Homo sapiens: one gene and its partners. The protein of the gene in region 4 interacts with the protein of the main gene of each other region in a biochemical or structural test. Each region holds a gene or a part of one and is shown on either strand. Other genes may lie near its edges. The genes, in order: LPAR1, ATP2B1, OR10G3, TJP1, SHKBP1, PRR16 and ABCA7.

Region 1 (3,500 bases), on a different chromosome or scaffold from region 4:
ACCTAACCTCTCCTTACCTCAGTTTTTATCAACTGGAAAATAAGGATAACAAATCAATAACAGTACCTATACGCCATAGGGTTGTAATTTACAAATACTAATTTCTAAGGTAGCACATGATTTATGCCAAATAAGTATTTCACAACTAAAAATAATTATTAAGATCCAGTACTCACTCAAAAGCAGCTTAATACAAGATCATGCTTAAAAACCAGCCATTGGTATTGCCCATTATTAATCTCAAAGATGACTTTATTTTAATATAACTTGACTCATAACAAGTCAGTTGCTGACCAACAAATTCTTCTTTTGATCATGAAGACTGAATAGGTCTAAAACCCAGGGATCATTTTGATGAAGTGAAAATGGAAACTGAGTAATCATTCCCAGAATAAATGGAAGTAAAACAAACATATTATTTACTGAGCACCCATTGTAGCCAGGAGTTTTCCAGGCTGTTGTATTTTAGAAGGCATAGAACATAAAGGTGTCGCTAGGTTTGGCTCCCACATAGCTGAATAAAGTGGCATTTACTGTAGTGAATTCACTACGGCTCTGGTCTTCAGTTTTGAAGGCAGAGAAACTTGGTTTTGTCATCACATGCATTCCCTCAGCATTTATTGACTACCTACTTTGTACCAGATAGCCGTGACAGGCAATGTGGCAACGTGGAGAAAACAAACAATCATTACAATCCTGCCTGCCCTCACAAACCTGGCAATCTGGCAGTGAAGACAAATACTAAAAACCAAATGTACACAAACTAAAGTAAAATAACCAGATTATCAATGGACTAATTTACAAAGAGAAGAACTTCGAGTAGACCAGAATTCTTGTTCCTACTGAAGTGGGAGACCAGCAGGACTTGTTTTCACAACGCTGCTGATCAAAACAGGATGTAGCAAAGAAACCAATCCAAACCAGCAAGGACCAGGAATCATAATACATTTGCATTAGACATTCCTACCAGCACCATGACGGTTTACAAATGCAATGGCAATGACTTGGAAGTTAACCTTACATGGTTTCAGGAACTCCCCACCCCTTTTCCAGGAAGTTCATGAATAACCTGTTTAATTATATTTAGCATTAAGAGTGGGGGCCCAGGCATGGTGGCTTATGCCTGCAATCCCAGCATTTTGGGAGGCCAAGGCAGGAAGATCACTGGAACCCAGAAGCTCAAGACCAGCCTGGGCAACATGACAAAACCCCATCTCTACAAAAAAAAAAGAAAAAAGAAAAAAAAAAATCTGGGTAGCTGGGTGTGGTGGTATGCACCTGTAATCTCAGCTAATTGAGAGGCTGAAGTGGGAGAACTGCTGGAGCCTAGGAGGTCCAGGCTACAATGAGCCAAGATCATGCCACTGCACTCCAGCCTGGGTGATACAGCAAGACCCTGTCTCAAAGAAAAAGAAAAAAGAATGGGTATAAATATAACTAGCCAGCAATCCATTAGTGCTGTTCTGTGCTACCCTGCCTATGAGATAGCCCTGCTCTGCCTTTGGAGTGGTCACTTGGCTGTACACTGTTACGCTAACAAACTTGCTTTCTTTCACTGTTGGTTCACTCTTGAATTCTTTCCTGGGCAGAGCCAAGAACTCCCCCAGGCTGAGCCCCAATTTTGGGGTTTGCCTACATTATGACAAGACCAACCCATGTCTCCCATGTAACCGTGCCTATCTAAGGATGGACACTTACAATTCAAATAGGGGAGCATACTGTAGGAATGGCATTAGGCACCACGCCTTGAAAAACATCTGTTAGGATTGTGACTTCCCCATTCTAAACTTTCCAACCACTCCCTGCCCACATCCTGCCCATTCTCTTATTCTTGCTACTTTTCTCAAAAAGGCTACGGTCCATTTAATTTCTGTTTCCTATATTACAATCTTATTCCCATCTTTCTTCACCAAATACCTTCACCTATCACCGTGACGGGGTTTTCCATGTTCTGAAAGTTCTTCCATCTCACAGCTTTAAAAATCATGCTCTTTATTCCAGAGATGTCAACTGCATTCGATCTTTGTGGAGTATACTAGTTTAAATATTATTTCTGTTATTTTAAAGTTAGTGGTTGTGCAGTGGTAGTAGTTGGGCATGGGAAAGTGGCATTTAGGGCAAATGTACACTGAAACACTAGCTCCTATAGCCTCAAAATGATTATTTCAACCTGAAAAACAACCCAAAGAGGCACAAAAGTATGTGAATCATTCAGTACATTGCACACTGGAATACACAAGATATTATACAAAGGTCAAAATTAAAACAAGAACTTGGCAGGTTAATAGTCCAAGTTCAGTAGTCATTTGCTGCTGGCAATTCTGCAAACTATGAGTAGCACTTGTCGTAATAGAAAAAGTTCATGCATATAAAAAATGTCAACCAACATTTAGGTCATCAGCAAATAAATATTTGAGTCAATACAGGAAAAAAGTCTCATGTTATTTAATGTCTCATGTTTTATTTCATACAAAAATAGCATCCATGGTAAACAAAGATGTGTTTTATCCACATCATGGAAAATGTGGCCTTGTGGCACAGGTGTGCTTAAGGTCCTGTTAATAAACATACAGAGAAACCATTTTTGTAGTTCTACTAATCTTCATTGGATGCAATAAGACAATCTCATATCTGAGGTGATGGGGTCCTCAGTGTTTCAGTTAGTTAGGCAGGGTTTTAGGTGTGTCAGTGATCCCAAGGCTTAGTTGCTATTCTCACAGGTCTACAAGAGGGTCAACAATGAGTATAGCTGAAAATGATGTCCATGATGCAGTCATCCTAACCAAAACAGACGAGACCTATGCATCAATCTGAATACTACTTTATATAATGATCAGCAGGACCCTGTCTCCTTCCAGTGGCTAAAATTAAGGTAATTCCCAGAGTTTCAGAGGAGCCACATAATCCCATGTTACATTCACCCAAAAATGCTATATAAATTGGAGCACAGAGAATTATAGGAACTTTCCATTGAATTTCTGTGGGGAAAGAGGAGGTGATAAAATGTTTTTTTTCAATTTCCATAGGGAAAGATGAAATGATAAAAGGTTTTCAAAAAAGATTTTTTAATGTGATCAAACGTTAACCTGAATATAGTCTATGGAGAATGTATAATTCCATTGGGTAATTATTTTAAAAAACTCTCACTCTACTCTCAGCTCCAAAGGAAATGTCTGTATCTGTCCTTTTCATGGAGCCAGCACAGAGCGTAGAACATAGTAGGTGCTCTTTAACTACCTTCTACACACATAAGTGAATATATTCTTCTTGATCACTACTATGAATTTTTCATCCAAGAAAAACAATGCTTATTTAAAAGCAGAAGGTATTTGAGTCTACAAATCTTGCTCTTCACCTTGAAATATGAATTAACCTCCACTACTACAAATAGAAAATTAATAGAAAATAAGGAAGTTTTCATGAAGATGACTGTCAGAGAATATCATTAATTCCAATCTGTTTTGTTCAGTAAATCTATATAAAACCTTGATATACTACCT
Region 2 (3,145 bases), on a different chromosome or scaffold from region 4:
AATAATTTACTAATGATTTATACTAACTGAAAAATATGGTATTCATCATCATTTAAAGTTTACTCAGTATTTCAACAAAGTTGCTAGTTTATATTAATAACTTATTATAAAAAACAACTATGGATAATTTTATTAATTTTTACCATAGAGTTCAGATAACTGGTATTGACAAGTATGGATAATGAAATAAAAATAAGCTCTTACAGCTAATGTGAAAAACTAATCTGTACTAAAACCAGCAGATTACATTCCCATAGACTGCAGAAATGATCTATTGTGCTATAAGGGTTGAGGACAGTGGGTTGGAGAGTAGGGACAATGTACCCACTCTCATTTTAGAGGCAAGATCATGCATATTATTAGAAGAGTGATTCACTGTAACACAACCATAACATTTCAAGTACATTATAGAATTTTCAATTAGATTTCTAAAATTTCAAGTAGAAAAAATTCCAAAATATTTTCAAATCAATATCAATATCCAAAAAGTTCAGTCCCCATTCAGAAACAGATAAACAGTATATTTATTAAATGAGTTAAGACAAATAAACTTTACAAATAGACAAATAATAAAAGGCTCAGTGGCTAAAATAGATGGTAAGCATCATTGAAAGAAATCAACACCATCACGGTATCTCAGTTGGCTTACACGTGTAAAAAGAAATTTTCAAAGAGCAATTTCACAGAAATGAAGCCAGTTTTTTTCTTATAAACAAATCACCAATTCTTGGTTCAAAACTGACATCTGTTATGAAAATTACCATATCACATATTTGTAAGATGACAAGGAGTAACTCATCTTCAAAGTGCAAGTAAGTCTATTTACAACCACAAAAAAGGCAATGATGAGGAGAAAAGGATTTTTAAAAAATATACAAAGATTAAAAACATTTGGGATGCAAAATTAAACAATTTTTTGGTTAGAGGATAAAAGAGAAAAAGTGATTGAATTACAGATTTCAGCTATACATACTATATAATGGGATCCAAGATCTTTAACAGCTTGCTTGCATTTTTTTCTACCTACATAATGCTCTGGAAATTTCTGGTAGAAATTACAGTGTCTCAAAGAGAGAAATACACACTAAGCATGTCTTGCTACTACTTCATAGATGTCATAAGACCCGTTTATGGATTAGAGTTGGTGTAGAAAGCCATTGCCTTGAGTTGAAAAATGAATACTGTAAAAGCTCAATACAAATCCTCCAAAGCACATGCACTTCTAAATCTTTTGGTAATTACATTCATATTTAAGCATAACCAAAATAAAAAAGAAAACTGAAAACATTTCCCTTTTCTCTATTCCCTATGCCTTGTGGGCTCTCCAGTTGATAGGGTCAATTTTTAGAGTTGAAAGGGTTCTTCAAGATAGTCCACCACCCTTATTTAGGGTAAATGATTTTCCCAAGATCATGCAGCACATTAATGGCAAAACCAAGACTAGAAACCAGGTCTTGACTCCTAGTCTAATATGCTTTCCAGCATATCATGCTACCTCTTTTTTACAGTATGATTCACTATAAATACCTGATGAATAAATGTACAATTACAAATGCTGACAGAGCCAATGTGTTTCTAAGACCTGCAGAGGATTACTGCAAAGATTTGATGGTGAGAAAAAGATTTCCCCCACCCACCAAAAATATCAAGCACCATCAACTAAATGTTTCTTTGCTTGGTCAGCACTCTCAGTTATAGTAGCAGTCCTCGTAAACTTTATGTCAGCCTGAGGATTGTGTATCTGGTGAAATCTGGGCCCTAACACATGCCAGTTTCTAAAGGGTAAAGACAGAGGCAAAAAAGAGAAGAAGGTAGATGAAGGAAAGAAAAAGAGAGCTAAAGAATCCAATTGGCTTAGAGGTGGGCATTCTAGCATATGGTTAATTATTGCATCTAAATATATCATTTTAGAACCTTTTCATGTAATCTCATTTTACCTAATCTGTTATTTGGCCACTTAAGAATTAAAATAAATGTATCAAAGACAATGGTGGTCATTGTTGTTATGTTTTTTACCTGTGAGACTATTTTAGACAAACTAAATTCAATGAAGAGTATGTCAAATGGTAAAATTGTGTTAATTTTCTTAATCTGATTCTATTAGATTACCAGCAAGGAATTAAAGCGGTACTTCATGGGGCTGTTACCATCTTGAAATGTATTCCAATTGTGGTCAAAGAGAACAGACTGATGCACTGTATATGCAGAACTGAGTAAAGAAGCTGAAATGTCTTTTAAAAAAACATTGCCATGAATTTATTTAATAAAAGGGCATATTTATTTATGTTTACAAACAAGTTTCAAAAACAAAAGGAAAACATGTATGCTTCTACTTATTAACCTTTTTCAAAATGCCAACAGCCCTCATGCTGTGTGAAGGTCTCTAAAGATTAGAAAAATCAATACAGTTCACTCACAGTTCACCAAGACATCACTAAACTAACATGTTTAGACAAAAACAAAAAAGACTAAGGTTCTCTTGTAGTTTGATAGTCTGATTTAATTTGATTTGCCTGAAATAACAAAAGCATTTCAAGCATCTTTCATTATGTAGTTGATGTCCTGCATTAAACAATCTACTAAATTCTGAACAAAAGGTTATTAGCAAGTTTTCAAAAATTTTAAAAATTAAACAGTTGCTTCAAAACCATTAAGTAGTAAATGTATTTAAGAAACTAATTAGGACAGATGTCATAACTTCATTAGAACACCACTGCTCATGTTTTTTTGTTTTGTTTTGTTTTTTTCGTTTTTTTAAACAAAGCATTAGTGTTATCTATTTGGCTATTAGTATTAGCAATTTATCTACAATATTTAACAAGGTAAATTGTAGGCAAAAATTTAGTACAGTTTCAATAGAAACACCCCTTTTTTTTTTTTTCCTGAAAATACAGCAGTATTTGAAGGACTAATTTTTCTCTGCATCAGTTATAAGGAAGCTTCCCATCTATGAACAGGAACAAAAAAAGTATCTACAAACCTTGTAAACAGATCTGTATCATTTATAAACATAAATAATCCAAATTATTAACAGCCAACAGCAGAAATTAAACTATCAATTCAACGATCCAGGGCTCTTTGTCTTGCCCAGTTTTACTCCTCCCTCTCTCTCCCATCCAGGACTGAGATAAACTAAAGCTCTGCT
Region 3 (3,950 bases), on a different chromosome or scaffold from region 4:
CCCATACAATGGCAGAGTTGAGTAGCTGCAACAGAGACTGTATGGTCCTCAAGGCCAAAAACATTTATTATCTGCCTCTTTAGAGAGAAAGTGTGCTTTCCTCTGCTTTAGACACTTTAACACAATTGTGGCTTGGAAGCTACAGAGACCTCCACAAAAGTTTGGTGGAAAAAATAATAAAACTAAACCATATTCAAGATGTTCTTTTACAACACAGACCATCTCTGGACATTTGAAGACAGTTGGGAAAAATGTTGCGACAACACCAAATTTAAGTCTAGAAGAAAATAAGTTAGACCAAATTCAAAGTATTCAAGGAAACAAGACCAAGAAATACTAAGAAAAATAACAGGCCGGGGGCAGTGGCTTGCACCTGTAGTCCCAGCATTTTGGGAGGTAGAGGGAGGAGGATCACTTGAGCCCAGGAGTTCAAGACCAGCCTGAGCAATCTAGTGAGACCTCGTCTCTACGAAAAATTTAAAAATTAGTCAGGTGTGGTGGTATGTGCCTGTAGTCCCAGCCACTTGGGAGGCTGAGGTGGAAGAATCGCTTGAGCCTAGGAGGATGAGGCTGCAGTGAGCCGTGATCACGTCGCTGCACTCCAGCCTGAGCGACAGAGCAAGACCCTGTCTCAAAAAATAAATAAATAAATAAAATTGTAAAATTAAAAAAGAAAAATCACTGTTCAGGGAGCTTGACTTAAAACATTACAGATGATAGTTGGATCAGATGACCTCTAATGTCCCTCCAACCCTGAAATTCTGTTTCTTCTAGTCTGTGAAGGTCTATGTTAGCACCTTAGTAATTCAAAGTGTGAATTTCTTAAAATGTGAATGCACCAATAAGAACACATCTCTTGCCAAGTAACAACCATGTTAGCTTTTTCTTCTCTTTTTTTCCAAATTTGCTTTGGAACAGAAAGAAAACCACAGATCTGAAGATTTCAACGAGACCTGTTAAGCCCCACAGACTTTGTCGCACCTGCTGTTACAAAATTGGAAAAAGCTAGAAACCCAGAGAGTCTCCTAGGAAACAAACTATGGATATTGGTCTTGCCTATCACAGGAGTGCTATTACAATATTCCCCAAGCTAAAGGTCTCACACATAAAAACTGACTCTGAGGGAAATAGAAGAAGTAGTAGAACACAGGAGAGACCAACCTTAACAGTTATCTTCAGTAAGAGCCACAGCTCCTCCCCCAGTTCATAAGGAAGCTGGAAGCAGATATCTCTACAAATAAGCAGGCAAATAATAAATTAAGTTTCCATAGTTTGACTCTTTACTTTGATCCAGCCAAAAGTAATTAGTTGGGTCTTCTGCCACGAGCTCTTCACAATAATTGCTGCTGACCTATGAGATATTCAAGATTCCTTAGGAATAGATTTGTATCCTTTCTCTCCGTCTGCAAGAAGAGTTTTTGATGGATGCTGACACCTTCAGGTGAGTTCCTCTTCTCAAAATAGCACCTGCCACTGTTCTAATCCCATTTTTCAGAGATAAATGTTAAGTCCAAACATTGTGTAAGGGGTTTCTCTACTCTGAGTCACTTCATCTCTCAATATTCTTACTTGTTTAGTTACTCAGTATAGTTCTTTTTCTGCTGTCACAAAAATTTTCTTTGCTGTTCTGCTCATATGACTATGTAACTACCATTTAGCCTTTTTATAAATAGTGGCTAATAGGCCAAGCATGTTGGCTCACACCTGTAATCCCAGCACTTTGGGATGCCAAGACGGGCGGATCACCTGAGGTCAGGAGTTCAAGACCAGCCTAACCAACATGGTAAAACCCCATCTCTACTAAAAATACAAAAATTAGCTGGGGGTGGTGGTACACGCCTGTAATCCCAGCTACTTGGGAGGCTGAGGCAGGAGAATCACTTGAACCTGAGAGATGGAGGTTGCAGTGAGCCAAGATGGCACAACTGCATTCCAGCCTGGGCAACAGAGAGAGACTCCATCTCAAAAATAAAAATTAAAATTAAAAAAATTAAAAAATTAAAAAATAGTGGCTAATATTGGATAACACTATTTCCCCCAGGCCTTTAATTGGCTAAATTTTTCTCCAAAGCTATTCTCCATTAAAAGTCCATTCACTGGTTTTAATACCAACCAGACTAGGAAGAGCATCTTCGAGTTCTGTGGTGGTGCCACCCTTGCTCTGTTCTTTTTGTCCTCACCAGGTCCCTTCCACCTATAAGACAAGTTCTCTGCCCAAAATTTGAAAAATGGACATGAGTAAAGCTATAACCTGATTTCTTTGTTGGCAAATATTTTAAACAGACAATTCTAACTCATTGCTAATAAGGGTTTTACATTTTAATAGAAATTGTCTCATGTCTCTCAATTTAATAACTCAAACTTTTCTCATATTATATATGTATATATTTGTTCCATTGTTATTCATCTTTAAATTATTTTCCATTTTATATGTCTTATTGTGAAATTTATTTTAAAAAGAAATTAATTATATTAGTTTTCCAAATATTTGAAATGCTTTTTATAAATAAAAAAGTGTGCTTTGAGTCGATTTTCAGAAAATAATAAAATTTTTAAAGTTTTCTTCATGGCCATTTGAAAGATGGGTTAGGGATACAGTTTGGGACCAGAATTAAGTAAAATTCATTTGCTGAAATGAGGTTAAGCCTGTGCCCTTCGCCTCATTAGAAAAGATGTCTAATCTCCTTGGTTGCTCAAAATTATACACTTTTATTTAGTTTGTGGTCCCCTAATATTTCTCATATATTTTTCAAACATTCATGTACTAGATGGTCTTTATTTTATTTTGTTTATTTATTATTTATTTATTTATTTTGAGATGGAGTTTCATTCTTGTTGCCCAGGCTGGAGTGCAATCGCACGATCTCAAGTCACTGCAACCTCTGCCTTCCGGGTTCAAGCTACTCTCCTGCCTCAGCCTCCTGTGTAGCTGGGATTACAGGCTCATACCACTATGCCCAGCTAATTTTTGTATTTTTAGTAGAGACGAGGTTTCACCATGTTGGCCACACTGGTCTCAAACTCCTGACATCAGGTGATCCACCAGCCTTGGCCTCCCAAAGTGTTAGGATTACGGGCATGAGCCACCGCGACCGGCCTCTAGATGGTCTTTAATATTTGATATCAGATGAGAATTCAAAAACACATTTAATCAATATATTCAAAGACTAAGTATCTGTGAAATAAAAACACTACTAAGCCTTCAGGCTTTTTTCTTTTTTTTTGAGTTGGAGTTTTGCTCTTGTTGCCCAGACTGGAACGCAATGGTGTGCTCTCAGTTCACTGTAATCTCAGCCTCCCAGGTTCCAGCGATTCTCCTGCCTCAGCCTCCTGAGTAGCTGGGATTACAGGCATGTGCCACCACACCACACTAATTTTGTATTTTTAGTAGAGACGGGGTTTCTTCACGTTGGTCAGGCTGATCACCCGACCTCAGGTGATCTGCCCGCCTCGGCCTCCCAAAATGCTGGGATTACAGGCGTGAGCCACCGCGCCCGGCCTCCCTCGGGCTTTTTTAAGAAACACTCAGTGTGATAGATTGTCAATGAAAGAAGTCGGGCAACTTCATGAATTCATTGTAACTAAACTTCACTCTAGTTTGATTTTAGAACTTGCTCTTAACTCCACTATGTCTCAATTTTGAAATAGGGTAGTAACACCAGTTTAGAATCCTTGACAGAATGAACCATAAAACTCTTAAAATTGTGATTCAGTTCACATGATTTACTACATTATTTTGATTTGGTTCCTTGTGGGAAGGAATTTTCAGTAAAATGTGGAAAGAGTGCTGGACTAGGAACAACACAATCTGGTTGGAGCCTTTACTCCAGCATTATACAGCTGTGAGACTCCTCTGCCATTTAACCTCTAAGGATTAAAAAACACTACACAGGTGCAAAATGCCACCATTATTCTATGACTTTTTATCACTCTGGTCCCCGGAGGTTTCA
Region 4 (3,500 bases):
GGGTTAAATTCCTGGTCAGTTCTATGCCACAAAGAGCACAAAGTGTACTCACCTGTACAGAGTTTTGTCATGTTCACTGAATTGATTCTGAGAAGTGGGTTTGGGACCAATGATGGGAGCACCTGAAGGTTTAGATGCTACTTCTGGAGGCTGTTTAAAAAAAAAAAAAAAAAAAAGACAAATATGCCTAAGGAACAGATAATTAACAGAATAGATATCATGTAATGGCGGAGGGGAGAGCCAAGAAGCCTTTTAAACGGTGTGCCCATGCATCCAAGGCACTAAAGACATATTTACCTTAAAACTGCCAGTGTCATTTACATCCTTCTTGGTCTCTAAGGATGCAGATCTTTTGTTTTCAAACATCTTAACTCTGGTGAGTACAGACTGTGGCTTCATTGCTGGATCTTCCTCTTCTTCGGTTTGAGTTGGGGGTGGAGGCAGTGGTTTGGTGTTTGAAGGCAGAGCTTCTGGCTTATGCTGAGATGAAGGTATCAGCGGAGGGACAGCTGCAGCACCATGGAGAGGCTCAAAATGACCTGCTCTAGAGGTAAATCCTTGGGGTGGTACTTGCTCGTAACTGCGTGAATATTGCTCAAAATACTGCTTGGACTCTGCAGGCTTGGGCCCTGCTGAAGGGTGGGGCTGGGCTTCCGGTCTGAGTCTACCATGTGTGTCATACCCAGGAGCTGGCTGCTCTTCGTGCCGCAGGGCGGATGCTCTAGGTGCCTGTTCGTAACGTGGTCTGCTGTCGTAAGACAGAGGGGCTGGCTCTTCAAAACGTGGAAAGTACCCTCGTTCTGAGGACTCTTCGGGATGCTGTCTGGAGTCAAGGTCTTGAGAGTGCTGATTATCAAAAGGTGGCCGAGATGGGTAGGGCTGTTTGTCATCATAATATGACCACTGTTCTTCATACATGGGGACGCGATCTTCGTATCGCAGACGATGTTCATAGTTTCGAGAAAACTGGTCCGTATAGCTTGAGGACTCGTATCTGTATGTGGGCTGCTCGAGGTCTCTGCTGGCTTGTTTCTCTACGTATGGGAGTTGGGGTTCATAGGTCAGATTAGGCTCTTTGTCTGGCCTGTGCCCTGGGTGACTAACGGCTGGCTGTTTCAAAACATGGTTCTGCCTCATCATTTCCTCGGGATATGGATCCTTTCTATACACCTGTATAAAAAATTCACATTTAAGGACAAAGTCTTGTTTCTAATTCTAGTCTATTTTATTAGACTGTGATTAAATATTAAACTACGATTTAATATGTGAAAATGGTATGTTTTACCATTTATTATCAGGATAGACAAGATTAGTGGAAAAAGCTGGTTTAAGTGAAAGCTCAAAATTTATAATGCAGGTAGGGGCTTTTATGTTTCAGCATGTACTAAATAAACAGTGAGTTAAAGATAAATATTAAATTTAGTAGAAAATTAATGCACTATTGATTACACTTCATTTTGACACTGAAAAATCCTAAAGAAGATTTATGGGCATCATAATTTGTATTAACATAAATATGTTTATGATGGGTTTCGATTACATATTAAGGAATTCTGGAAGATACTGAAAGCCAAAAATAAAAATAATAAGCACAAATCTCAATTAAAAGGCCTGTTTTCAAATAATCAGTATACCAATGGAAGCCATGCAAACTACGAAACTGAAATGATTTGTATTGATTTGAAAGCATTACAGTGTATAAGCCTGCAGTAAAAAAGCAAAAGGAACACTTAAAGGGCAAAGCAAAAATGATCATGTGCCAGATTGATGGACAGCAACAAATTAGTGCAACACCGCAGCACAGGTACCTTTGTTGGATCTACATGCGACGACAATGATGGTTCTTGATCTCTTAGCATTATGTGAGCTGCCTCAGTACTTGGTGTTCTTAAAGAATCAGCTTGTGGTGAGTAAGAGGTGGAAGGAGCTGGGGTGGGCTCCTCCAGTCTGACATTAGTTAAATTTACATTATGATTAACAGCAGAGGTTGATGATGCTGGGTTTGTTTCAGGCGAAAGGTAAGGGACTGGAGATGAAGCTTCTGCTTTCTGTGAAGTGTTTAAAATATTTTAAATATAGTGTTTCTGTTTACTGCTAACTTTCCACTTCAATTTATAGTGATTGGTAGACATACATTTTAAGTGTGCTGAATAACAAAATTATGACCTCATGTCCTAAACTTTTTGGGAAAAAAAAAAAATCCAGTACATTGCTGTGTTAAGACAAACACACAAAATTTAGAATTAAGCCCTTGGTACTCTCAAATTGAAATTGAAGATTAATTCTTAATCTGGAGAAAGGACAACATATATATTTTTAACTCAATCACCACATTCTAAAATTTAATAATGCACCTCTATCTACAAAACGTTGAATGCTTGCTGCTTACCTGTTGAGAGGCTGGCTTAAATCCAGGGGAGTCTATTCTATGAATTGGTTGTGGCTGCGCTTGTGGTGAGTAAGGAGGATATGTTTGGTTTTCATGATGCATTCCAGAGGAGTCCTCTCTTACAGGCTCAGAGGACCGTGTAATGGCAGACTCCGGTGGAGTCCCAACCTCATCATTAAGAGTTTCATCTAGTTCTTGATCAGTGTAGGCCCCGCCTTCTGTGTCTGTGTCTTCATAGTCAGAAGTGTGTCTACTGTCCGTGCTATACATTGAGTATTCACTACCTGGAGCTGACAGGTAGGACAGACGATCATCATGCAAATCAAGGTCATCACTTGTAGCACCATCCGCCTGGGTCAAATAAAAGTAAATTACAAATTTTATTCAGTAGTTCTTTAAGAGATGGCCTTTATCGTACAAGGCAGATTGAAAAGGATATCTTTCTCTGGAGAAGTCACATCTACTTCTTGAAACTTCTGGTAAGGAAAAGTCAAGAAGATTGTACAAGCACACACGCAGACACATGGAGCACCCCTTGAGATCTGAAGGGCATGGATGAAGGAAACAGTGGCCGGTAAGCCAGGACAAAGTTAGACTCCAGGGCCCAGCCCTGGAAGACAACGAAGAAACTCTGACACTGCTCAGATTTATAAAACCTACTCACTAGCTCTTCAGCCCTTTTAAGCAAGGGGAAGAGGGAGAATGTTACCAAACTAAGCTCACAGAAACAAGGACACACTGACAGAATAGCACATGGAAGAATACCTATGAAATAAACCCAACAGTTCAAAAGTTGAATAAGAGCTAATATATTTATGTTTAGGAAACAACTGATATGGTTTGGATTTGTGTTCCCACCCAAATCTCATGTTGAATTGTAATCCCCAGTGTTGGGGGAGGGGCCTGGTGGGAGGTGACTGGATCATGGGGGTGGTTTCTAATGGTTTAGCACCATCTCCCTCACACAGTCTTGTGATAGAATTCTCCCAAGATCTGTTTTTTTAAGTGTGCAGCACCTCCCCAACTCTCTTCCTCCTGCTCCAGCCATATAAGACATGCTTCCTTCCCCTTCCGCCACGATTGTAAGTTGCCTGAGGCCTCCCCAGAAGCA
Region 5 (3,500 bases), on a different chromosome or scaffold from region 4:
GCAGCCTGTCCTGCCCCACCCCCAGGTCCAGGAGGTGCAGCCCATCACCAGTTATGACGCGGCAGGCTCCTTCCTCCTCCTGGGCTGCAACAACGGCTCCATTTACTACGTGGGTGAGCAGCAGCCTGTGTCCCGGGTGCCCGAGACCCTCCCCTGGGAGAGGGGAAGGGAGGGAGAGAGGCTGGGGCACTTGGAACAAACCCGCTCCACCCTCCCTGCCCACCCCAGATGTGCAGAAGTTCCCCTTGCGCATGAAAGACAACGACCTCCTTGTCAGCGAGCTCTATCGGGACCCAGCGGAGGATGGGGTCACCGCCCTCAGTGTCTACCTCACCCCCAAGACCAGTAAGCTATGACCCGGCTTCCCCTGCTGCTGTCACCTGCCAGCCCCAGCCCCAGCCTGCAGCTGTCCCCCAACTTGTGTAGCATGACCCAGAGGGGTTTATCGAGGGGCGGCAGATTCAACTCTCTCTCATTTTTTTTTCTGAGACAGACTCTCATTCTGTTGCCCAGGCTGGAGTGCAGTGGTGCAATCTTGGCTCACTGCAACCTCCACCTCCTGAGTTCAAGCGATTCTCCTGCCTCAGCCTCCCAAGTAGCTAGGATTACAGGCGCCCACTGCCACGCCTGGCTAATTTTTGTAGTTTTAGTAGAGATGGGGTTTCACCATGTTGGCCAGGCTGGTCTTGAACTCCTGACCTCAGATGATCCTCCCGCCTCAGCCCCCCAAAGTACTGGGATTACAGACGTGAGCCACCGCGCCCAGCCAGATTCAACTCTCATCCAGTCATTCAACAAATATTTACTGAGTATCCCTGTATATAAGCACGTTCTAGGTGCTAGATGGTGGCCACCCTCTCCACTAGGGGCAGAATGGACCATTAGGAGTTAATCTTTGTGTTTCTTTCCCACCTTTGTGATTAAGGCATGATGTTCACATGTTCATAAAACAACACAGATGCAGGTTTTACAGCAGATGAACCTGAGTTCTCTTACTTGAGACAGTTTTTTGTTTTGTTTTCTTGACATCAAATGCAGAATGGGTTAATTTTTGAGACGTAATTCTCATACCATAAAATTTCCCATTTGAACGTGCACAATTCAGCGGATTTTAGTATATTCACAAGGTTGTACAACTATCACCATGAACAAATTCCAGAGTATGTTCATCACCCCCGTAAGAAACCCCCTGATCTTTAGCAGTAACTCCACATTTCTCACTTCTGATACCCTCTAGAAATCACTAATATGCTTTCTCTTTTTGTTTGAGACAAGGTCTCGCTCTGCTGCCCAGGCTGGAGTGCAGTGGCATGATCTCAGCTCACTGCAATCTCTGCCTCTTGGGTTCAAGCGATTCTCATGCCTCAGCTTCCTGAGTAGGGGAGGATTACAGGTGTGCATCACCATGCCTGGCTAATTTTTCTACTTTAAGTAGAGACTGGGTTACGCCACGTTGGCCAGGCTCAATATGCTTCCTATACCTATGGATTTGCCTGTTCTGGACAATTCCTGTAAATGGGATCATACATTATATGGTCTTTTGTGTCTGCATTTTTCACTTAGCATATTTTTTTAAATGGTTAGTGTTTTCTGGGTCTTAAGATATCCTTACCTATTCTAGGTTACAAAGATCTTCTCCTGAATTTCTTCTAGAAGATTTACAGTTTAGTTTTTACATGGAAGTCTGTTCTATCAGAAATTAAATTTTATGTATGGTGTGAAGCAGGGATTATTCTTTTTTAAAAAAAAATAGAGACAGGGTCTTGCTCTGTTGCCCAGGCTAGAGTGCAGTGGCATGATGTGAGTTCTCTGCCACCTCCGCCACTCGGGCTCAAGCGATTCTTCTACCTCAACCTCCTGAACAGCAGAACCACAGGCATGCATCACCACACCTGTCTAATTTTTGTATTTTTTTGTAGAGACAGGGTTTTGCCATGTTGCCCAGGCTACTCTTGAACTCCTGGGCTCAAGTGATCCTCACACTTTGGCCTCCAAAGTGCTGGAAATACAGACTTGAGTCACTGTGCTTGGCCATAGCTGCTGCTGCTGCTTTTCTTTTTTTTTTAAAGCAGAAATAAGTTAATAATACACCTAACTTCATGACACATTATCACCTTTCTTCTTTGTAAGGCCCTTTTCTTATTTCTTTTTTTTCTTTCTTTCTTTTTTTTTTTTTTTGTCTTTTCCTGAGACAGAGTATCGCTCTGTCATTCAACCCAGGCTGGAGTGCAATGGCGCAATCTCAGCTCACTACAACCTCTGCCTCCTGGGTTCAAGCAATTCTCCAGACTCAGCCTCCCAAGTAGCTGGGATTACGGGTGCCTGCCACCATGCCCAGCTAATTTTTGTGTTTTTAGTAGAGGCAGGGTTTTGCCACGTTGGCTAAGCAAGTTTTGAACTCCTGGGATTCTCCTCTCGTCGTCTCCCAAAGTGCTGGAATTACAGGCATGGGCTGCTGCACCCGGCCTCTTTCTTATTTCACTTACTTACTCATTTCCTCCTCATCTCCCTTCCCGCCACATGCCACTATTATGTCATTTTTCTTTGTTTTTTGAGACAGTCTCGCTTCGTCACCTAGGCTGGAGTGCAGTGGCGCAATCATAGCTCACTGCAGCCTCACCCCCTGGGCTCAAGTGATCCTCCTACTTCAGCCTCTTGAGTAGCTGGGATCATAGGTGAATGCCATCACACCCAACTAGTTTTTTAAAAATCTTTTGTAGAGATGAGGGTCTCACTATGTTGCCCAGGCTGGCCTCAAACGCCTGGCCTCAAGCAATCTTCCTGCCTCGGCCTCTGTTCTCTGTTTTACTTTCTCTTTCCTCTCTTATTTGCTGTTTCACTGTTACAATTTCTGTCTCTGGGCCTCTCCTCCTTTGACCTGTGCCTTTGTCTCCCTGTTCCTCCATTTCCCACATCTCATCACCATCTTTTTGTGTCCTTCCCTCTCTCCTTGCTTTCTGACTGTGTCTCTGTTCTGTGTCTCTTTCTTTCTTTCTTTCTTTTTTTTTTTTTGAGACAGAGTCACATTCTGTCATGCAGGCTGGAGTGCAGTGGCGTGGTCTTGGCTCATTGCAACCTCTGCCTCCTGGGTTCAAGCAATTCTCATGCCTCAGCCTTCTGAGTAGCTGGGATTACAGGTGCGTACTACCACCACCAGCTAATTTTTGTATTTTTACTAGAGACAGGGTTTCAGCACGTTGGCCAGGCTGGTCTTGAACGCCTGACCTCAAGCGATCCACCCGCCTCAGCTTCCCAAAGTGATGGGATTACGGCGTGAGCCACCGTGCCCGGCCTCTCCTTGCTTTCTGACTGTGTCTCTGTTCTGTGCCTGTTTCTTTCTCCCTGCCCTGGTTTCTGTCTCTGTGGCCCAGGCCCTCTCCTCATCCTTGGCCCCTCACCAGGTGACAGTGGGAACTGGATCGAGATCGCCTATGGCACCAGCTCAGGGGGCGTGCGGGTCATCGTGCAGCACCCGGAGACTGTGGGCTCGGGGCCTCAGC
Region 6 (3,515 bases), on a different chromosome or scaffold from region 4:
TTATTTGATGTTAGAAGGAAAGATTTCTTCTCTTTCTTTTAGAAGACAGCAACGGCCCATGGTATCTTTCAACTCTGAGGGGGAAAAACTTACGCCAAATGCTGAACACATCCTGATACCAGAAGCATTCAGATATCCCCCTATAATTCTCCTATAAATGTGGGTCCACTTGGGGAGGCAGAGAGCTTGCTAATGCAGGAGGCAAAACACCCTACAGCCTCAATGTAATAGTTTAGGGTACATCCTGGAAGAATGCTGAGTATGAGGAGGGCTTGGCAACATAGGGAGAGTTCAACAGAAGGCTCTTGAAGTACCAAATGGAAGTATAAAATATGTAGTGTGTAGATTTTGATTTATGATGTGGAATATGATATTTCATTTAGAAAATTCTGATATACACTCACTGTAACTTCTCCAAACTCTGTCAGATTTGCTGCCCATATTGAGGAATGTTAAGTGAGATTAAATGAACCACTACTTCATTTTAATTCTGAGGAACATTTGCTTTTGTCATTATTTACTATTGTTTATTGATTTAACAATATTTCCACAGACCAAAGTATTTTATTACATATATAGCTGAGCATGTAATTCATAATTGTATAATATAGAAAATAAACTTCTTGGTATTGGCCTCAGCATTTAATAATGAAAAACTAGTGACAAACATCTTTAGAAAAAAATAATAAAATAGTCCTTCAGTATTAAAATTTCCTAGTAAAAAGCATTAGATCAAAGTTAAGAATATGACATGTTAATGCATAGATGACTTAGGCATAAATAAAATGAATCAAATCCCAGCTCTTATAGTAAATCAAAATAGGTGAAATCTGCAGGTTCACAGTTTGTCATAGGTCAATTGCAAAAACAATGCATCATTCATATTTTTCATCATTCTGAGGTTTTTAATGATACAACATTTAAAATAATGCATACCCAGGATATAAGCAATGTGCTGCATACTTACCAGGTGATTTTTATGCCACTTTGCTGAATGCAGGATTAATATATTTGGGCTTTTTATTGCTTGAGTAGAAAGTGCTCATTACTTATTTTATGTTTATAATATAGAAAATTAAAAAAACAATTTTTTTAATGGCATACATCACACGGTTGTAGTGGTTGACTTCCTCAAGATCGTCTTCTGTGGTTTTGGTGCAGTGGGAGGAGGCACAGTTGCAGGTCTGATAGGGGGGAAGCTGTTACTGTGGCTTATTCCCATTCCCCCATTTTCTAGTGGGAAAGGAGGGAGATGGGGTGTAGGAGGGAGGGGAGGGCCTTGGTGAGGAATCTTTCCCGGTGGGTGGACAGGTTCACTGTGTAAGTGGACCTCCCTGTTTTTTATGTTATACCGGGTATCACAGTCAGGACAATAGCCATGGTACTGTACTTTTTCATTAAACCGAACTCGTTCTCGAGGCCCTGCCTGGGGACATCTGTCTTTTTCAGGTCTATGCATCAGAAGCTGGACTGGAGCCTTGTCCAAGTTACTGTTGGGTATGCAGCAGATATCTCCATTTGGAATTTTGTTAGGTCCACCTGGTAAGCCTCCATTTCGTAGAAGGGTGCCATTGGTTTTTACAGGATTGGCAGTTGGAACCACCCTTTTGGGGTCTTCACACTTCACAGGTGTCAACCTTGGAGGAGGTGGTGGAGGGTTTGGCTTTCTCAGGACCGTGAGGATAGCAGACGGGTGTGCTGGGGGTTTAATAAGCGGTGCATTAGCCTGCACTTTGATCTTCTCTAGGCTGGAGGCTGTTGTGCCACTTGAGCTACTATTCAGCGTGTCCGTTTTGGAGCTGTCAGTCATCTCATCCTCCAGCTGTAGGTCAGAGGTCAGGGTGTCAATCTGGTCAACCACCTAGTGGAAAGGACAAGGTAATTGTTTTGAAGAATGACCCAAACAAAGTATACTAGAAACAATTTATTTTTGTCTAGGGGAAATCTGCTATGGAAGCCTTAACTGATATTGAACTGAACATTCCATTGCTGCTTGATGTTTTCAGTCAATAAATTTACAGAATAGTGACCATCACACAGAGGACCAACTGTATGATAATATAATTTAACATGCTTAGAACATAACATATGATTTATATATACATTCTATTTCTGACTCTGATATACCCACCCATAAAATATGAAACCTGATGCAGGAATATAACTGATTTTTAAAAATAATCAGAGGGCATTTCCCTTCTGCTTAACATGCAGAAAGCTGTAGGAGAACATTGCTTCCAATCTTGAAATTAAAAAAAAAGATAATCTGCAAAATCATAATTTTCTTGAGACCAACAGAGACTTGACCTCACAAGGCAACCAAATGAACTCAACTGTTGAGAGTTTCAAGCCCTCTGAGGATATACAGAAAACATCAACTGTTCAACCTTTAGAAAATCACAGGAAAAAAAGGCAGCAACCATCAGAGTGAATGAAGAAAGCAACTAAAACTTTGATGACTAATTAAAGGTTGAATATGTGCTATTATGACAATTTAGAATCCTTGGGAGTCTCAGACACAGTATCATCTGTACTCACTCATGGCCTCCTTTACACAGACCTCTCATGCTGAGAGGAGGAAAGAGATGGAAGAGAGCCCCTGGTGGGCACACAGGCACAAAACCCCATTTACTTCTCAGACTGTTCTCCCTTATAAAGCAGAACCTTTACTGGTGCAGTAGCAAGAAACCCTCCAACCTGTAAGACACAGGCAAAGATATTTTGCTTCTGAGAGAGGGTAGAAGCAAAAGCTGTCTCGCCTTGGAGAAAGGGAAAGAAAATTATCTGGGCCCAGGACCCTAAACTAATACAAAGCAGATGTTTACTATCACTGGGTGAATGACAGGAAGTCACACCAGTCAAGGGCTACTACAGGTACCAGGCAGAGGAGCCAGGGACTCAGATAAGGCTGGCAGAGGCATCAGAGCATAAGACAGGTGGGAACCCACGTTAAGGAGAGAGGTTGTGAAGATAGGAACATTGAATGGAAGTATCTTAGACAATGCAGTTCTAAGGAGACTTTGGCAAGGATACTGGGGAGTCTGACATCTCCCATAACAGGGCAACCTTACTGTCTCTGCCCTGTTCAGTCATTGGCTGGGAGCAGCAGTGTGGTCACTGCTCAAATGCTGACTTTCAGAGTACAGCATCAGGGTCCTCAGTCATTTACACTCTGCATTCAGAGGTCTTGGAGGCCATTCTCATAGCCACCATACCTGCACTGTTATACACATATGAGAATGGAAAAGTTATGGATTGTTTTAAAAATAGTTTATGTAAGGAGACAGTTCCTTCATTTCACACATTTCCATCACATTTATTCCATATGGAGATTTTTCCCTCCTCTCTTACTTAGGTCTAAGTTTAATCAACTGTGAAGTTGGCTCTTTGTCACATGGTGGCAGGATTGGGCTCAAAATGAAAACACCAAAAGCATCTAGACGTTGGACAGGATATAGACTTTACTTCCTCCTCATGAGGCTCTTAAGTGATTGATTCCACCAGGCAGGTAAAGG
Region 7 (3,500 bases), on a different chromosome or scaffold from region 4:
CAGAGGTTGCAGTGAGCCGAGATCGTGACACTGCACTCCAGCCTGGGTGGCAGAGCGAGACTTTGTCTCAAAAAAAAAAAAAAAGAAAAAAACAAAGGCCGGGCATGGTGGCTCACACATGTGATCCCAGAACTTTCGGAGGCCAAGGTGGGTGGATCATTTGAGGTCAGGAGTGCAAGACCAGCCTGGCCAACATGGTGAAACCCCGTCTCTACTAAAAATACAAAATCAGCTGGGCATGGCGGCATGTGCCTGTGGTCCCAGCTACTCGGGAGGCTGAGGCTGGAGAATCGCTTGAACCTGGGAGGCGGAGGTTACCGTGAGCCAAGATTACACCATTGCACACCAAGCTGGGTGACAGTGAGACTCCATCTCAAAAGAAAAAAAAAGAAAAAAAAATATATATATATACTGCAATGTGTGCTAACAAACAGCACTTGTTTGCAGATGTGTACCAGCCCTAGTAGGTGGCCAATAAGTGGCACACAGCAAATACATTTGTATATAGTAGGTGCTTGAATGTGAACTGGTACAAAGCAGGTGCCTGATAAATGCTGGCTGTGAGCAAGTGCTTGATGTAGATGTGTATACAATAGGGGTCCAATAAATTCTATTGGTATTTGATAAACGTTGATGGACACAAAAGTATTCAGTACACCTCTTTAGTGAGCACAGTGTGTGTTTAACAGAGGTAAGCATGCAGTAGGTGCTTAATGAGGTTTTGTTGGCTCAAGATAAATGCACAGGCCAGACGCAGTGGCTCACGCCTGTAATCCCAGCACTTTGGGAGGCTGAGGCGGGTGGATCATGAGGTCAGGAGATCGAGACCATCCTGGCTAATATGGTGAAGCCCTGTCTCTACTAAAAATACAAAAATTAGCCAGGCGTGATGGCAGGCGCCTGCAGTCCCAGCTACCTGGGAGGCTGAGGCAGGAAAATGGTGTGAACCCGGGAGGTGGAGCTTGTAGTGAGCCGAGATCTCACCACTGCACTCCAGCCTGGGCGACAGAGTGAGACTCCGTCTCTAAAAAAAGATAAAATAGGGCAGGTGTGGTGGCTCACGCTTGTAATCCCAGCACTCTGGGAGGCTGAGGCGGGTGGATCACGAGGTCAGGAGATGGAGACCATCCTGGCTAACACGGTGAAACCCCGTCTCTGCTAAAAATACAAAAAAATTAGCCGGGCGTGGTGGTGGGCGCCTGCAGTCCCAGCTACTCGGGAGGCTGAGGCAGGAGAATGGCATGAACCCGGGAGGTGGAGCTTGCAGTGAGCTGAGATCCCACCACTGCACTCCAGCCTGGGAGACAGAGTGAGACTCCATCTCAAATAAATAAATAAATAAATAAATAAATAAATAATAATATAATAAAATAAAAATAGGAGCACAAATATTGGCATACAGTAGGTGCCCAATAAAAGGTGGTGGATACACAGTAGGTGTTCAGTAAAGGATGATGGGCAGGGCATGCAGTAGGGCAGCCACTCACTGTCCCTGCACCTGGCCTCCACCCCTGGACTCACCTCACCAGGGGGAATCCCCAGGCACAAGCGGTCAACAGCTGGCATCCTCTGCCCACGGTATACCTGGGAGAGTGCAGGTCTTTCAGAAAGGTGAGTGGGCCAGTGGGAGCACCCCCCACCCAGCAGTCGACCTGACCACACCTACCTTGGTCAAGTTCCTCAGCACCAACACATCCCCCTGGGTGGCTCCTTGGACCACCCGCTCCCGTTCACGGGCTACATCCTCGTCCTCCTCTCCCAGGAGTGGCAGAGACCTCACCCTGGGCCTGGGGACAGAATATCTGTGGGCTTAAAGTAGGTCCTTGGCCCCTGCCACCCTCTCCATAGACCTCACTAACTGTGGCAGGAGTTGGCTTCGGTGCTGCAGCAGTAGTGTGAAGAGAAGGAAGAGGGGCCCCTGTATCACCATGGCCAAGAGGTTCTTGCCGACCACCTCCCAGCGCAGGGGTGACTGGAACTGCCTGTCTCCTGTGGATATAGAAAGGAGGGACTGGGTCCATGAGAGTCTTGGTTTCTGGCCCTTTCTCCATCCATGTCACTCTGGATTCTTAAGGGAAAGGAACACAAATTGGATAGGCCACTCAGCTGGAGTCTAATTGGCATAGAAAACAGAAGAGGCCTCTTGTGATGTAATCTAAGAATTAGCTTTTTATGGCTGCTTTCTTGTACCTCCAACTTGGCCCAACCTTAGGGCCACCTAAGAACCCTGGCTGTCTCCCTGGGGGGCTGTTTTTCTCCACTCTGTATAATTAACTCTAGGTCTCCAAGGGTGCTAGCTATCTGTAGCCATGGCCCCACCTGACAGGAAGTTCTCACCCAAGCGCTCAAAGGCATCAGCCATGGCCTGGTTCCGCACCATGTCAATGAGCCCCCGGCCCAAGCAGAAGTGGGGGAAGATAAGGAAGACCTGTTTCAAGATCCGGCTCACCTCCTGCAGCTTCTGCTCAAGGGTGGGAGACGGATGTTGGTCAGGGGCTGAGTCCAACGACCCAACCCAGCCCAAGCCCCAGCCTCGTGGTGCCCCACCTGATCAGAGAAGAGCTCAAGCACAAAGGTGGCCATGCTTCCATTGATGCCAATAAAGAGGTTTATGCAGGTGAGCACCACATAGGCTGTGCTGGGCACGGAGAAGAAGAAGGAGGCTGGGTACATGAGCGGTGTGATCGACCAGCTGAAGGGACAATAGGAGTCACTGGAGTAACCACTCAGACTGAGAAGCCCTGAGAGGAATAAAAATCTCCATTCCCATCTTCTCTGCCTTAGACCTTGACATTTTCACCCAAAGCACATTTCTGTTTTTTTTTTTTTCTTTCTCTCTTTCTCTTTCTCTCTCTTTCTTTCTTTTTTAGAGGTGGGTCTCTCTATGTTTCCCAGGCTGGTCTCAAACTCCTGGCCACAAGCAGTCCTCCTGCCTCGGCCTCCCAAAGTACTGGAATTACAGGCATGGGCTGCCTTAGAACTCTACTAATATGAGTCAGGATAAGATGAGCTTTTAAGGCCACCTTGGCACACCACTGAATTGGATCACACACGGCATCACCTCAGACCTCCATATCCTCTCCTTGGGAGTCACTGCAGAGTTCTATCTCAGCAGCATTAATGTGGAAGGCAGTAAGGGGTCAGTAAGAATAGGCCCTGAGGGACTGGGGGCCTCACCCATACAGTAGTAGCAACAGCAGGAGAGCAGGCAGGTTGGCAGGGGCCACATATGCCCTCTGCTGGAAGGCCAGAAAGATGAGCACCACGATGCATGCTGGCACCAAGTAGTTACACTGCATTGGAGATGGCAGTTACCTTTATCAGCCTAAAGAGGTGGGCACTGCCACCCTCAGCCCTGTTCCCACCCTGACCTCCTTGCTTTTTGAGTAGGAAGGCACAAAGTCTCCCACAATCCTCAAGACTTTACCCAGGCCATCTTGGACAAGCCCCTGCCTACAAGGGGCCAGACAGGGCAGTGGCAAGCAGTGGCTGGGCCCCCA

Evidence for each region.
Region 1: the proteins of TJP1 (region 4) and LPAR1 interact in a test that uses a peptide from one of them, tested with the Homo sapiens proteins (one large-scale study listed by IntAct).
Region 2: the proteins of TJP1 (region 4) and ATP2B1 interact in a test that uses a peptide from one of them, tested with the Homo sapiens proteins (one large-scale study listed by IntAct).
Region 3: the proteins of TJP1 (region 4) and OR10G3 interact in a test that uses a peptide from one of them, tested with the Homo sapiens proteins (one large-scale study listed by IntAct).
Region 5: the proteins of TJP1 (region 4) and SHKBP1 interact in a test that uses a peptide from one of them, tested with the Homo sapiens proteins (one large-scale study listed by IntAct).
Region 6: the proteins of TJP1 (region 4) and PRR16 interact in a test that uses a peptide from one of them, tested with the Homo sapiens proteins (one large-scale study listed by IntAct).
Region 7: the proteins of TJP1 (region 4) and ABCA7 interact in a test that uses a peptide from one of them, tested with the Homo sapiens proteins (one large-scale study listed by IntAct).

Annotation. Positions count from the first base shown.
Region 1 is NC_000009.12:110,937,471-110,940,970, forward strand, and holds part of LPAR1 (lysophosphatidic acid receptor 1), read right to left. Parts: exon of another isoform or gene 2,442-3,500; intron 1-2,441.
Region 2 is NC_000012.12:89,587,549-89,590,693, forward strand, and holds the end of ATP2B1 (plasma membrane calcium-transporting ATPase 1), read right to left. Parts: 3' UTR 501-3,145; downstream 1-500. UniProt on the Homo sapiens protein: Catalyzes the hydrolysis of ATP coupled with the transport of calcium from the cytoplasm to the extracellular space thereby maintaining intracellular calcium homeostasis.
Region 3 is NC_000014.9:21,577,277-21,581,226, reverse strand, and holds the start of OR10G3 (olfactory receptor 10G3), read left to right. Parts: upstream 1-1,150; 5' UTR 1,151-1,441; intron 1,442-3,950. UniProt on the Homo sapiens protein: Odorant receptor.
Region 4 is NC_000015.10:29,717,969-29,721,468, forward strand, and holds part of TJP1 (tight junction protein 1), read right to left. Parts: intron 2,741-3,500; coding exon 2,390-2,740; intron 2,049-2,389; coding exon 1,809-2,048; intron 1,171-1,808; coding exon 298-1,170; intron 151-297; coding exon 53-150; intron 1-52. UniProt on the Homo sapiens protein: TJP1, TJP2, and TJP3 are closely related scaffolding proteins that link tight junction (TJ) transmembrane proteins such as claudins, junctional adhesion molecules, and occludin to the actin cytoskeleton.
Region 5 is NC_000019.10:40,583,373-40,586,872, forward strand, and holds part of SHKBP1 (SH3KBP1-binding protein 1), read left to right. Parts: intron 1-25; coding exon 26-113; intron 114-228; coding exon 229-345; intron 346-3,371; coding exon of another isoform or gene 3,372-3,401; coding exon 3,402-3,500.
Region 6 is NC_000005.10:120,684,300-120,687,814, reverse strand, and holds the end of PRR16 (protein Largen), read right to left. Parts: intron 1,862-3,515; coding exon 1,106-1,861; 3' UTR 501-1,105; downstream 1-500. UniProt on the Homo sapiens protein: Regulator of cell size that promotes cell size increase independently of mTOR and Hippo signaling pathways. Acts by stimulating the translation of specific mRNAs, including those encoding proteins affecting mitochondrial functions.
Region 7 is NC_000019.10:1,057,107-1,060,606, reverse strand, and holds part of ABCA7 (phospholipid-transporting ATPase ABCA7), read right to left. Parts: intron 3,294-3,500; coding exon 3,178-3,293; intron 2,742-3,177; coding exon of another isoform or gene 2,693-2,741; coding exon 2,548-2,692; intron 2,462-2,547; coding exon 2,338-2,461; intron 1,990-2,337; coding exon 1,860-1,989; intron 1,788-1,859; coding exon 1,667-1,787; intron 1,585-1,666; coding exon 1,522-1,584; intron 1-1,521. UniProt on the Homo sapiens protein: Catalyzes the translocation of specific phospholipids from the cytoplasmic to the extracellular/lumenal leaflet of membrane coupled to the hydrolysis of ATP. Transports preferentially phosphatidylserine over phosphatidylcholine.